Linked DNA regions of Homo sapiens. The protein of the gene in region 1 purifies or fractionates together with the protein of each later gene. This does not show direct contact. Each region holds a gene or a part of one and is shown in the gene's direction. Other genes may lie near its edges.

Region 1 (3,654 bases):
AACTTCATGATGTAGGTACCATTATTACCCCATGTTGTAGATGAGAAAGCTGGCTGGAGGAGTAAGTAACTTGCAGCAGCTTAATGTTATCATAAAGTATAGCTGAAGCTACCAGTACCCAAGCTAAAGACTGCAATGGAGGAGGCATGGATGGGTAGAGAGCATGATAGGCGGCAGAGCTCTGAAAAAGTAGTTTCTTATGGTCTAAACATCCTCTTCCTAAGCAGCTTTGATTCTTCTCTCCCCATTTGATTATAAATAACTCCAGATATTAAGCAAGGAACTTCCCGGCTACATTTTCCTTACTCTCAGAGCACCTCACCTTAAATTGCCTCAGTGATTAGGATGGGTGCACAGCTTTCCCTCTTCAAAGGTTTGTTTCTAGTTTTTCTCACCTTTCCCATTTTTCACCTGTGTTGTCATCTTTCATGACCTTTTATTGAAGATGGGAGCTGTCTTAGTTCATTTTGTGTTGCTATCACAAAATACCATGGACTAGGTAATTTATAATGGACAGAAATTTATTTGGCTCACAGTTATAGAGGCTGAGAAGTTCGAGATCAAGCAGCCACATCTGGTGGGTGCCTTCTTGCTGCATGATCCCATGGCGGAAGGCAGAACAAGAGAGTGTGCATGAGAGAACAAGAGAGCTTGGCTTGCAGCCTCACATCCTTCAATAATCAACATTAATCCATTCATGAAGGTGGAGCCATCATGAGCTAAACACCTCTTATTAGGCCCCACCTCCCAAAACTGTTGCACTAGAGATTAAGTTTTCACACATGAACTTTGGGGGACGTGTTCAAACCATAGCAGAAGCCTACCACAATTAACTGATAAAAGTGTATACTAATTTAGTCTAGCATAAAGAGACAGGCCAGGCGCAGTGGCTCATGCCTGTAATCCCAGCACTTTGGGAGGCCGAGGTGGGTGGATCACCTGAGGTCTGGAGTTTGAGACTAGCCTGGCCAACATGGGGAAACCGTCTTTCCAAAAAATACAGAAATTAGTTGGGCATGATGGGGCATGCCTGTAATCCCAGCTACTCAGGAAGCTGAGACAGGAGACTAGCTTGAACCCAAGAGGCAGAGGTTGCAGTGAGCCAAGATGGTGCCACTGCACTCCAGCCTGGGCAACAGAGCAAGATTCCATCTCAAAAAAAAAAAAAAAGACAGTGGGATACTATTTGTTAAATAATATGATATTGCTCTTTTTGTAGACTCCAAAACGTCAGTTATCAGCAATTTGAGATTTAATCTATTACTTCAGATGATTACAGATTCTCAAAGTGCTTAGTCGCACATTTGTTTTTTGGTTTTTAAAATTCAATGAACATTTAGAGAGTATCACATGCTATTGAACTATACTGAGTTCTAGAGATGTGAAGATAATTAATGTGGTCTTGCTATCAAGGAGGTTATGGTTAGAGGAGGGTAGACATTTAAACAAATATAGTGTTAGAGTTGCTAAAATGGAAGCAAAGAGATGGCTGTCACGCATGCAGAGTCAGGGAGAGCCTAGCAAAGGCTGCATAAGGTGAAAAGGGTCAGTGACTTGAACAAGTGTTTTTTCATACTGTAGGAAGTAGCCCATTAGTAGTTCATCAGACCAGTTTAGGGTGTCATATCTTGTGACAGTTACTATGGGACTGAACGAAGGTGGACGAACGCAGAAATGAAGACAAAGACAAAAGGATCTTTTTAAAGAAGGGGTCGGGAGCTCCTGCTAGTGAGCAAGGGCCCTGAGCTTTTACAGCCTTTTATATTTATTGGGTAGAAAGAGCAGGGAGGAGGAGGTAAAGGTCAGCTGCTTGATTTATCACAGGTTCACGTGATTGCTAACAGGCTTCAAATGTGCCTATAGATAATCGCAAGAAACACTGTGCCTGGGCATGACTGCCCTCAGCATTCCTTCTGGGTGGCAGATGCAGTTTGTCAGTTTGCCAACAACCTGCATTCATGATAACAGTTTGCTGTTTGCTCATATAGCCTCCAGTGGTATACTGAGTTAGTCACAACCCTCATTCTTTTGGCCTCCAACAATAGCATTTATTTTTAGTGGAATAGTGTATCTCTCACACAGCAAGTATATTTAGTGAAACTTTGGTTTTATGTCTGTACTAGTCATGTGAAATGTATTTCTTAGCATAGATTTGTCAAGTCAGTTTGAAAACTACTTTTCAGACAAATGGTAAGAAGATAGCTTGACTTAGCTTAATGCAGTGGAGCTAATGCTCCACCTTTTTTTTTTTTTTTTTCTACTTTGTCAGGTTTTTTTTTTTCCTGTTGTTTGAACTTCTTACTTTTGGTACTAGGGTTTTTTTTTTTTTTCTTTCTTATTTACTTCTACTCTTTAGGGATTTCTACTCCTTTGGTCCCTGGAAAACCAAGGTCCTTTCATTACAAGGCAAGGGTTACAAACTCAGTACCTACAGAACCAGCAGGCTGGGTGGAGACTAGGGCCAGCTGAAGAATTGCCCACTTAAAAGGGCATGTGCTATTCCAAGTTCGAACTCATAGATTCTTTGATGGAGTAGAGGTTTAGTGATCTTACAATGTCTCTTAATATTGGAAATACACATTTTTAAGTGAAATCTCTAGATTTTAAAATATTGGTAGCTAATCCAAAGTTTTTAAATACCATATGGGCCAACCAAAACATATCTGCTAGCTAGATTTGGCCTGAGGGGCTCCAGTTTGCAACCTCTATAAGTGAATCTCAACATTCTTTCATAATAGGTAAAGGTTGTCTCAACTACAGCTATCCAGCCTAAATATGTTTTTGTTTTTTTTTTTTCCTTAAGAATTTCACAGTAGTGAGATGCTGCTTTTGGTATGAGGAAAAGCAAATTTAGAAGCTTCATTGCCCAGGTGCTGGGTCATAATATGATGGTGACTCTGATTTCCTGTGGATCTGTGAAGTTCAGTATTATACTTATTTTCTCCAGTACCCCAGGAATTTCTTCATAGCTGTATGGGGTAAATATTGTCCTAAGATTTGATAAAGCAAAAAAATCTTTTTTTAAAGGGCAAAGTCAATTTCCAAAGTGTGCATCTATGTGCATCTGATATTGTGGAAGAAAGTCCCTAGGACTTGGAGTCAGAGGACCAGGATTTGAGTGTTAACACTGCCATTTACTAGTTACTTTACCTTGAGTAAATTACTGACCCTCTCTGAGTAGGCCTCAGGTTTCTCTTTGTTCCTGTCCTTATTACTTCATCAAGTTAATGTCAGATAGAAAGCACTAAAAATTGCAAGGTACTCTGATAAATGGCTGCTTTCTTTCCCTTGTAATTCCTCCAAAATTGTAAATTTATATATATCAACTTTCTGTGTCAAGATCTTTAGGTGAAGAACAGTTTTCTGTGGGATCTGTCAACTTCATGAAACAGACCAATATCCAGAAAAATACTAATACCAGAGATACAAGTAAAAAAACAAAAGACCAGCTCATCATCGTGAGTAAATTCCAAACAAAGCTTCTCCTATCTAGCCCTTTGCAGAAAAGCTTGCCAACCCCTGTATTAGACAGTTCAGAACTTGGTATTTTCAATGTCATTAAGCAATGTTTTATGTGACAGAATGGGAGTTGTAGGTGGTGACATTGAATATTCTTGAATTTATCTGTGCTTTTCCTGCACTCTATTTTTTGTC
Region 2 (3,654 bases), on another chromosome or scaffold:
CGGGAGGCTGAGGCAGGAGAATGGCATGAACCCGGGAGGCAGAGCTTGCAGTGAGCCGAGATTGCACCACTGCACTCCAGCCTGAGCAACAGAACGATACTCTGTCTCAAAAAAAAAAAAAGTTGTGTCTATTTGTTCTTTCATAAATAATGAGAGATTTAGTATACTTTAATTCCTTCCTTCCTTCCTTTTTTTTTTTTTTTTTTCTGTCACCCAGGCTGGAGTGCAGTGGTACAATCTCATCTCACTGCAACCTCTGTCTCCTGGGTTCAAGTGATTCTTGTGCCTCAGCCTCCTGAGTAGCTGGGATTACAGGCACCTGCCACCACGCCCGGCTAATTTTGTATTTTTAGTAGAGACCAGGTTTCACCATGTTGGCCAGGCAGGTCTCAAACTCCTGATCTCAGGTGATCCACCCACCTCGGCCTCCCAAAGTGCTGGGATTACAGGTGTAAGCCACTGTGCCCAGCTTTAATTTCTTTTTTGTTGCCCATCTACCCCCACTAACTTTTTGCCTTAAAAACATTTTGGCTTTTAGATCCAGATTATTGTCTTTAAAAAAAAAAAAAAGTAATGCATGCTTTTGCTTTCCAGAATTATTTTTGACATTTATGTTTCCTAACCATACTAACAGCTGCTATCTAGACTGAGAGTTACATAGGTTACAATACTCAGTCCATTTCCTATGCTCAATCTTCATTTTTACTTATTCCTTGATTAGTTGGAATCTTTTTCAGGAAAGATAGTATATTCCGGTAGTTCTTGCTTGCCTAAGAACTTCTTTATGTTGCTGTTTCACAGTAACATCATCCTTTTGGGGCATACACTTCTTCATCTTAATCTTTTTACCTAAAAACTCCAAATATTATTCTTTTGTCTTCTGGCATTTTGTATGATGGAAGATAAGTTGTGGCCAACTTTATCAAAATAACTATGAAAGTCCACAAAAGTTTTGTTTCTTTCCCTTGTAATGACTACTTTATTTAAAAAAACCTTAAAATATATAAAACATAACACAGATATAGGAAAGGACATGAAACAAATGTGCAGTTTAGTGAAATATTATAAAGTGAATGCCCGTGTGACCACCATGCAGGTCAAGAAGCAGGACACAGCCAGCTCCCAGAGCCCAGTGCACCCTTGAACCACACCCTGCTTCCCCCTGGAGGTAACAACTCACCTTCCTTTTATGGTAACCATTTTCTTGCTTGCTTTTATAATTTTATAATCTAAATTTGCATCCTCAAACAAAGTACATCAGACTTGTTTCTCTGAAACTTTAAAAAATTAGAACTGTACCATTTGTATCTTATTCATTGTTATAACATCTCCATGGTGACTACTTTGATGCTTCAAAAAATATATATCAAATTTATTCCAAGAATATTTGGAGCCCTACTTTGCTTGGTGCTCTAAATTGGGGAATCCAGCACAGCCAAGAAGGAAGTGGTTTGTGTAAGACAGTGGTCAGTTTTAGACAAGACGAGTTTGAGGTGGGGATGGCCAGCAGAGAGGCAGACGTATGCATGTGTCATGGCTGGGACCCGAGATCTGAGTTGCAGGTTCAGGGTTATAAACACGCACGTGTAGGTTTCAAGATGGCACCATGGACCTAAATATTTGCCTTTCTTTTCTTCAAAGTGTCCAAAGACAAATATAGTAAGGAAAACATCGATTTGAGTTTTAGAGAAGAGAACAAACACTGGGCCTAGATTCTTTAAGGACTCTGTAAAAGTTAGAGTACAGATGGTGCCAGCCAATATCACCCAGCCCATGAGTATCAACAAGGGGCTTTCCTGGGAAGAAGCAGTGGTGTCCTCTCAGCTGAGTGCTAGTATCCCCAGGCTCAATGAAACAGGGCTAGATGGGCTGTGGTATGGTCAGTGGGGTGGGGATGAGGGATATAAATCTAAGGGCCGTGGGAAATCTATCAGCACTGCCACCTTGAGTGGCAGATCCCCATCTTAGTCTGCCTGTGTTGCTATGAAGGAATATCCAAGGCTGGGTAATTTATAGAGAAAAGGTTTACTTTTCTCATGATTCTACTGGCTGGAAGACTGGGCAGCTTGTGGAAGCCTCAGGCCACTTCCACTCCTGACAGAAAGCAAAGGGGAGCTGGCGTGTGCAGAGATCACATGGCAAGAGAGGAAGCAAGAGAGAGGGGAGGAGATGCCAGGCTCTTCTTAACAACCAGCTGTCATGGGAATGAAAAGAGTGAGAACTCACTCACTACTGCAAGAATGGCTCCAAGCCATTCATGAGGGATCCACCACCATGACCCAAACACCTCCCACCAGGTACCCCCTCCTTCAACATGGGCTTTGGAGGGATCAAATATCCAAACCACAGCACCCTCAGTTCCTCAGACATGTGCTGAGGGAGCTCCCAGTAAAGTGGGGATTTAATATATCCAGCTTCAAACAAGGTTGATTCTGATCACTTCACCAGATGCAGCTAAAAATAAAGATACAAAAGTATGTAAATAAACGCTATTCCACCCAGCAGTAAATACCTGTAATGTATTTGATCTAACATAGGGCCTCATCCTGCAAGCTTCCAGGGCAGGATCTGGAGGCCAGGGAGCTTAGGATCTAGGTACCTGAATACAAATTTCAGTGCTCCATTTAATGCCTGGAATGGTTTTCTCTGTGCCTTTTTTCCAGCTGTGAAGTGGCTGAAAAAAACTTTCTAAGCCAAGTAGTAAATCCCTGTGGCTTCTATCAGTAGCAGCTCTAAGGACCATTTGACATCCTTCACCCCATCCCCATGGCTCCCTGAATTGATGACAATTCTAGTAGTTTCCATGAGTCCAGGCTAGACTTTGGTTTCCATGTCGATGTTGCCTTCCATTCTGCCTGGGCTACTTTGCTTGGGTTCCTGTTTCATATGGCCACACTGCCCCTGGCTGAAACTCTGGATTACTTTAGAGTCCCCCCACCTTCTTCCCTGCTTCCAGCCCAGTCTTCCTCCATCCATAGTTTATTATTATTGTTTTTCTGAGACAAGGTCTCGCTCTGTTGCCCAGGCTGGAGTGCAGCAGTGCAATCATGGCTCACTGCAGCCTTAACCTCCTGGGCTCAAGCAATCCTCCCATCTCAACCTCCCAAGTAGCTGGGAGTACAGTGTATGCCAACATGCCTGGCTTATTTTTTTTAAAATTCTGGTAGAGACGAGGTCTCACTATGTTGCATAGTTGATCTTTTTAAAACAAAAATCTAATCTCATCATTTCTCTACCCTCCGGATAAAGCCCAAGCTCCTTACCTGCCTCAACTGCTTTTCCTCTTTTTCCTTTACGCTCTACCCTCTAGGTAGGCTGAACTACTCCATTTTTCTGAACATGCTTTCCCACCCTCCCAACCCTTCCAAAACAACTCTTTCCACCTCCTTATATGCCCTCTCCCCACCTTTTATCCAGCCAGTTAGTTCTTTTAGAAAGCCAATAAAATAGGCAAACTTCCAGAAAGCCTAATTAAGATACAAAGGCAAAAAAATTCACAAAGCTAGAAATGACATATGGAGCAGCATGGAGAAAAGATGTAAAATCTCAAGAACATTGTGCATTATTGTATCCCATCATCTGTGAAAATCTTGATGAAATGGACTATTTCCACTGAAAATATGCATTACCAATATTTACTCAAGAAACAGAATG
Region 3 (3,654 bases), on another chromosome or scaffold:
GAAAACAAATTTTCACCTTGCAATGGTTCTTTTTAGACAGTAGGCCTACACCGAGACTCCAATTACCAGGATGTGGATAAAAACCCATTCAAGTTTTTGACTCCTGACTTCCCAAGACGGAATAGAGTTGGAGGAAAGGGTGGCCCGGGAAAGAAGGAAGTTCAGGGTTATAATTTATCATAACTCCAGGCATAATCCAGCACAGGCTTTGGGGAGAGGTGGTCTTTAGAAAGCAGGGTCTTCTCTGGAGTGGCCCCAGAGGCTCAGCACTTCCTCCCGTCGGTGGGCTCTGGTAGATGTAACATGTCAGCTCCATAAGCCCCTCCTTGCTTCCCCTAGGGATTCCTGGATGTGCTCTAATTCTTACTGTCCGTGTCCAGGGACCTCACAGCCCTGAGTCCCCAGGAGGGCCTGGGAGATAGGTGCCTGGCTGCTTAAATTCCGCACAAGACCTGAAAAGATGGGTTTGGCAGGCATAGAGGACTCTCCAGTCCTGCTTAAAATACATGCATAAGTCAGTCCATCTCACACTTAGACTTCAGATGGAGCTGCATCCCCCACCCAGGGGGATTTCCTCTAAGGCCCTCACTTAGAGGGAAGTCTGGAAGCCACAGAGGGAAAAACTTATTATAAAGTACCATGTTCAGGATGATTCTTACATTTAGGTACTTTTTTACAATGTGCAGGTGGTATGTTTCTCTACTTGTTCCTACTTTGATTTTCCTTACTTGGCTATTTTATCTTCATGAGTGTTGAGTTTTGTTTGTTTGTTTGTTTTTGAGACGGAGTTTCGCTGTCGTTGCCCAGCAGGAGTGCAATGGTACAATCTCGGTTCACTGCAACCTCCTCCTCCTGGGTTCAAGTGATTCTTTTGCCTCAGCCTCCAGAGTAGCTGGAATTACAGGCACCCGCCACCACGCCCGGCTAATATTCTGTATTTTTAGTAGAGTCGGGGTTTCATCATGTTGCCCAGGCTCAAACTCCTGACCTCAGGTGATCCACCCACCTTAGCCTCCCAAAATGTAGGGATTACAGGCGTAAGCCACCACGCTTGGCCTCTTCCTGAGTGTTTTAGGCATCCGTCCCCTAAAGTCACTTGCTTTTCTTATACTCCTAGTCCTAAGTTCCAATTTTTAGGGCAGTTTGTGACTTCTCTTGGCAGCTAATAGTAGGAAAGTCCCTAAATGGCTTTATCCTGCACACCTAGTCATTCTCTGGCTGTTTTGAGGAAAGTGTGTGTGTGTGTGTGTGTGTCTGTGTGCATGTGCATGTGTGTGTGTGTGTGAGCGCGTGCATGTATGCGTGTGCACGTGCATGCGTGTGTGGGCGCGCGTGTGCATGTGCATGAGTGTGTGTGTGTGTGTGCGCGTGTGCACAGGGGGTGTCCCTGCCCTTGTGGTGTTTGTACTTCATGCAGCATTCTCTGGTGGAAGCATGGTAGGGAGAGATTAAGACCAGCCAGCACACACCATATTCACAGAGCACGTCCACCCTGTGATGGGCTTTTCAGGTGGTTTCTTGACAACCAGACTTAGTAATCATCCTCCAATCCCACTTACCATTAACTGAGAAAAGCACATAATTGGCTTAGGAGAGTCACTAATGCACCTTTATGAGCCTGTGTAGGCTCTTAAGTCTTTAGAACCGACTGCTTAAAGAGCCTAAGCTTCTCTACCAAAATCATTGAAAAGTGCCTTTCAGAAAAATCAGGATGTTTAAGAGCAGAACAACTGTAAGGATGTTAGCCACCTGCCCTGTTTTACAGAGAAGGCCACTGAGGTCCAAATAAATAACATATGAAGCTCACATAACTACAGTCATGCATCACTTAACGAAAGGGGTACGTTCTGAGAAATGCATCGTTAGGTGATTTTGTCATTGTGCAAACAGCATAGAGTGGACTTCACAAACCTAGATGGTACAGCCTCCTGTACACCTAGGCTATAATCCTATGATCTGTTGCTTCTGGGCTACAAACCTGCTCAACATCTTACCATACTGAATACTGCAGGCAATGGTGATGGTAAGTTTTTGTGTCTCTAAACTTAGAAAAGGACAGTAAAATACAGTATAAAATGTAAACAGCAGTACACATGTATAGGGCACTTGCCGTGAATAGAGCTTGCAGGACTAGAAGTACTCTGGGTGAGTGAGTGAGTGGTGAGTGAATGTGAAGGCCCGGGACATTATTGTACACTACTGTAGACTTTATACCGTACATGTTAGCTACACTACATTTAAAAGAGAATATTTTCCTTAATAATAAATTAACCTTACCCAATAATAAATTTTCCAATAAATTATCCAATAATAAATTAACCTTAGCTTACTGTAATTTTTTTTACTTTATAAACTTTTTAACCTTTTTAAACTTTTTGACTCTTTTGTAATAACACTTAGCTTAAAACACAAATACATTGCACAGCTACTACACATATTTTCCTTCTTTATAGCCTTACTCTATAAGCATTTTTCTTTTTTTATTTTATTATTATTATACTTTAAGTTTATAAGCATTTTTCTATTAAAATTTTTTTTAACTTTTTAAACTTCTGTTAAAAAAAATAAGACACATACACATTAGCCTAGGCCTACACAGAGTCAGGGTCATCAATAACACTGTCTTCCACCTTCACATCTTGTCCACTGGAAAGTCTTTAGGGACAATAACACGCACGGAGCTGTCATCTCCTGTAATAATAATGCCTCCTTCTGGAATACCTCCTGAAGGATCCATTTAAGGCTGGTTTACAGTTTACTTTGTTTTTAATAAGTAGAAGGAGTACCAGTAACATCGTCATTTGTTATCAAGTATTATATACTATACATAATTATATGTGCTAGACTTTTATATGACTGGCAGCACAGTAGGTTTGTTTACATCAGCATCACCACAAACACATGAGTAAGGCATTGTGCTACACCGTTAGGATGTCACTAGGTTGGCCAGGTGTGGTGGCTCACACCTGTAATCCCACCACTTTGGGAGGCTGAGGAAGATGGATCACTTGAGGTCAGGAGTTTGAGACCACCCTGGCCAACATGGTGAAACCTCGTCTCTACTAAAAATACAAAAATTAGCCAGGCATGGTGGTGCACACCGATAGTCCCAGCTACTTGGGAGGCTGAGGCAGGAGAATCGTTTGAACCCCAGAGGCAGAAGTTGCAATGAGCCGAGATTGCACCACTGCACTCCAGCCTAGGGGACAGAGCAAGACTCCTTCCCAAACAACAACAACAACAACAAAAAGATGTCACTAGGGCATAGGAATTTTTCAGCTCCATTATGATCATACAGGACCACCGTCATATGCGGTCATTGTGGGGTGCATGACTGTAGTTATGTAGAAGCGGCGCTATGCCCAGGACTTTCTGTTCCGCAGTCCTGGGCTCCTTCCACTATAGCAAGAGCCACCTCCATTTAGAGCACCACAACCCAGCTAGCAAACACGTGCTATGTGAGGACAGGGACCACTTAGCAATGCTGTCTGTTTCCCCTCTTTCCTGCGACAGGGCTGACTAACAGCAGGCCCTCCATACATTTACCTAACACATAGTTGCTTGCTTCCTCAAAGAGAAAACCCCTACAAGTGGATTTATGAGAGTGAGCAGCCACAGACAGCAGCAGCACGGCAAAGGTGGGAGATCTTGTTT

Evidence for each region.
Region 2: the proteins of ESCO2 (region 1) and ADD2 purify together in Homo sapiens (affinity purification with mass spectrometry; one large-scale study listed by BioGRID and IntAct). This does not show direct contact.
Region 3: the proteins of ESCO2 (region 1) and MACROH2A2 purify together in Homo sapiens (affinity purification with mass spectrometry, with the first as the bait; one large-scale study listed by BioGRID). This does not show direct contact.

The regions. Positions count from the first base shown.
Region 1 is NC_000008.11:27,784,545-27,788,198, forward strand, and holds part of ESCO2 (N-acetyltransferase ESCO2), read left to right. Parts: intron 1-3,340; coding exon 3,341-3,458; intron 3,459-3,654. UniProt on the Homo sapiens protein: Acetyltransferase required for the establishment of sister chromatid cohesion. Couples the processes of cohesion and DNA replication to ensure that only sister chromatids become paired together.
Region 2 is NC_000002.12:70,758,144-70,761,797, reverse strand, and holds part of ADD2 (beta-adducin), read left to right. Parts: intron 1-3,654. UniProt on the Homo sapiens protein: Membrane-cytoskeleton-associated protein that promotes the assembly of the spectrin-actin network. Binds to the erythrocyte membrane receptor SLC2A1/GLUT1 and may therefore provide a link between the spectrin cytoskeleton to the plasma membrane.
Region 3 is NC_000010.11:70,069,731-70,073,384, forward strand, and holds part of MACROH2A2 (core histone macro-H2A.2), read left to right. Parts: intron 1-3,654. UniProt on the Homo sapiens protein: Variant histone H2A which replaces conventional H2A in a subset of nucleosomes where it represses transcription. Nucleosomes wrap and compact DNA into chromatin, limiting DNA accessibility to the cellular machineries which require DNA as a template.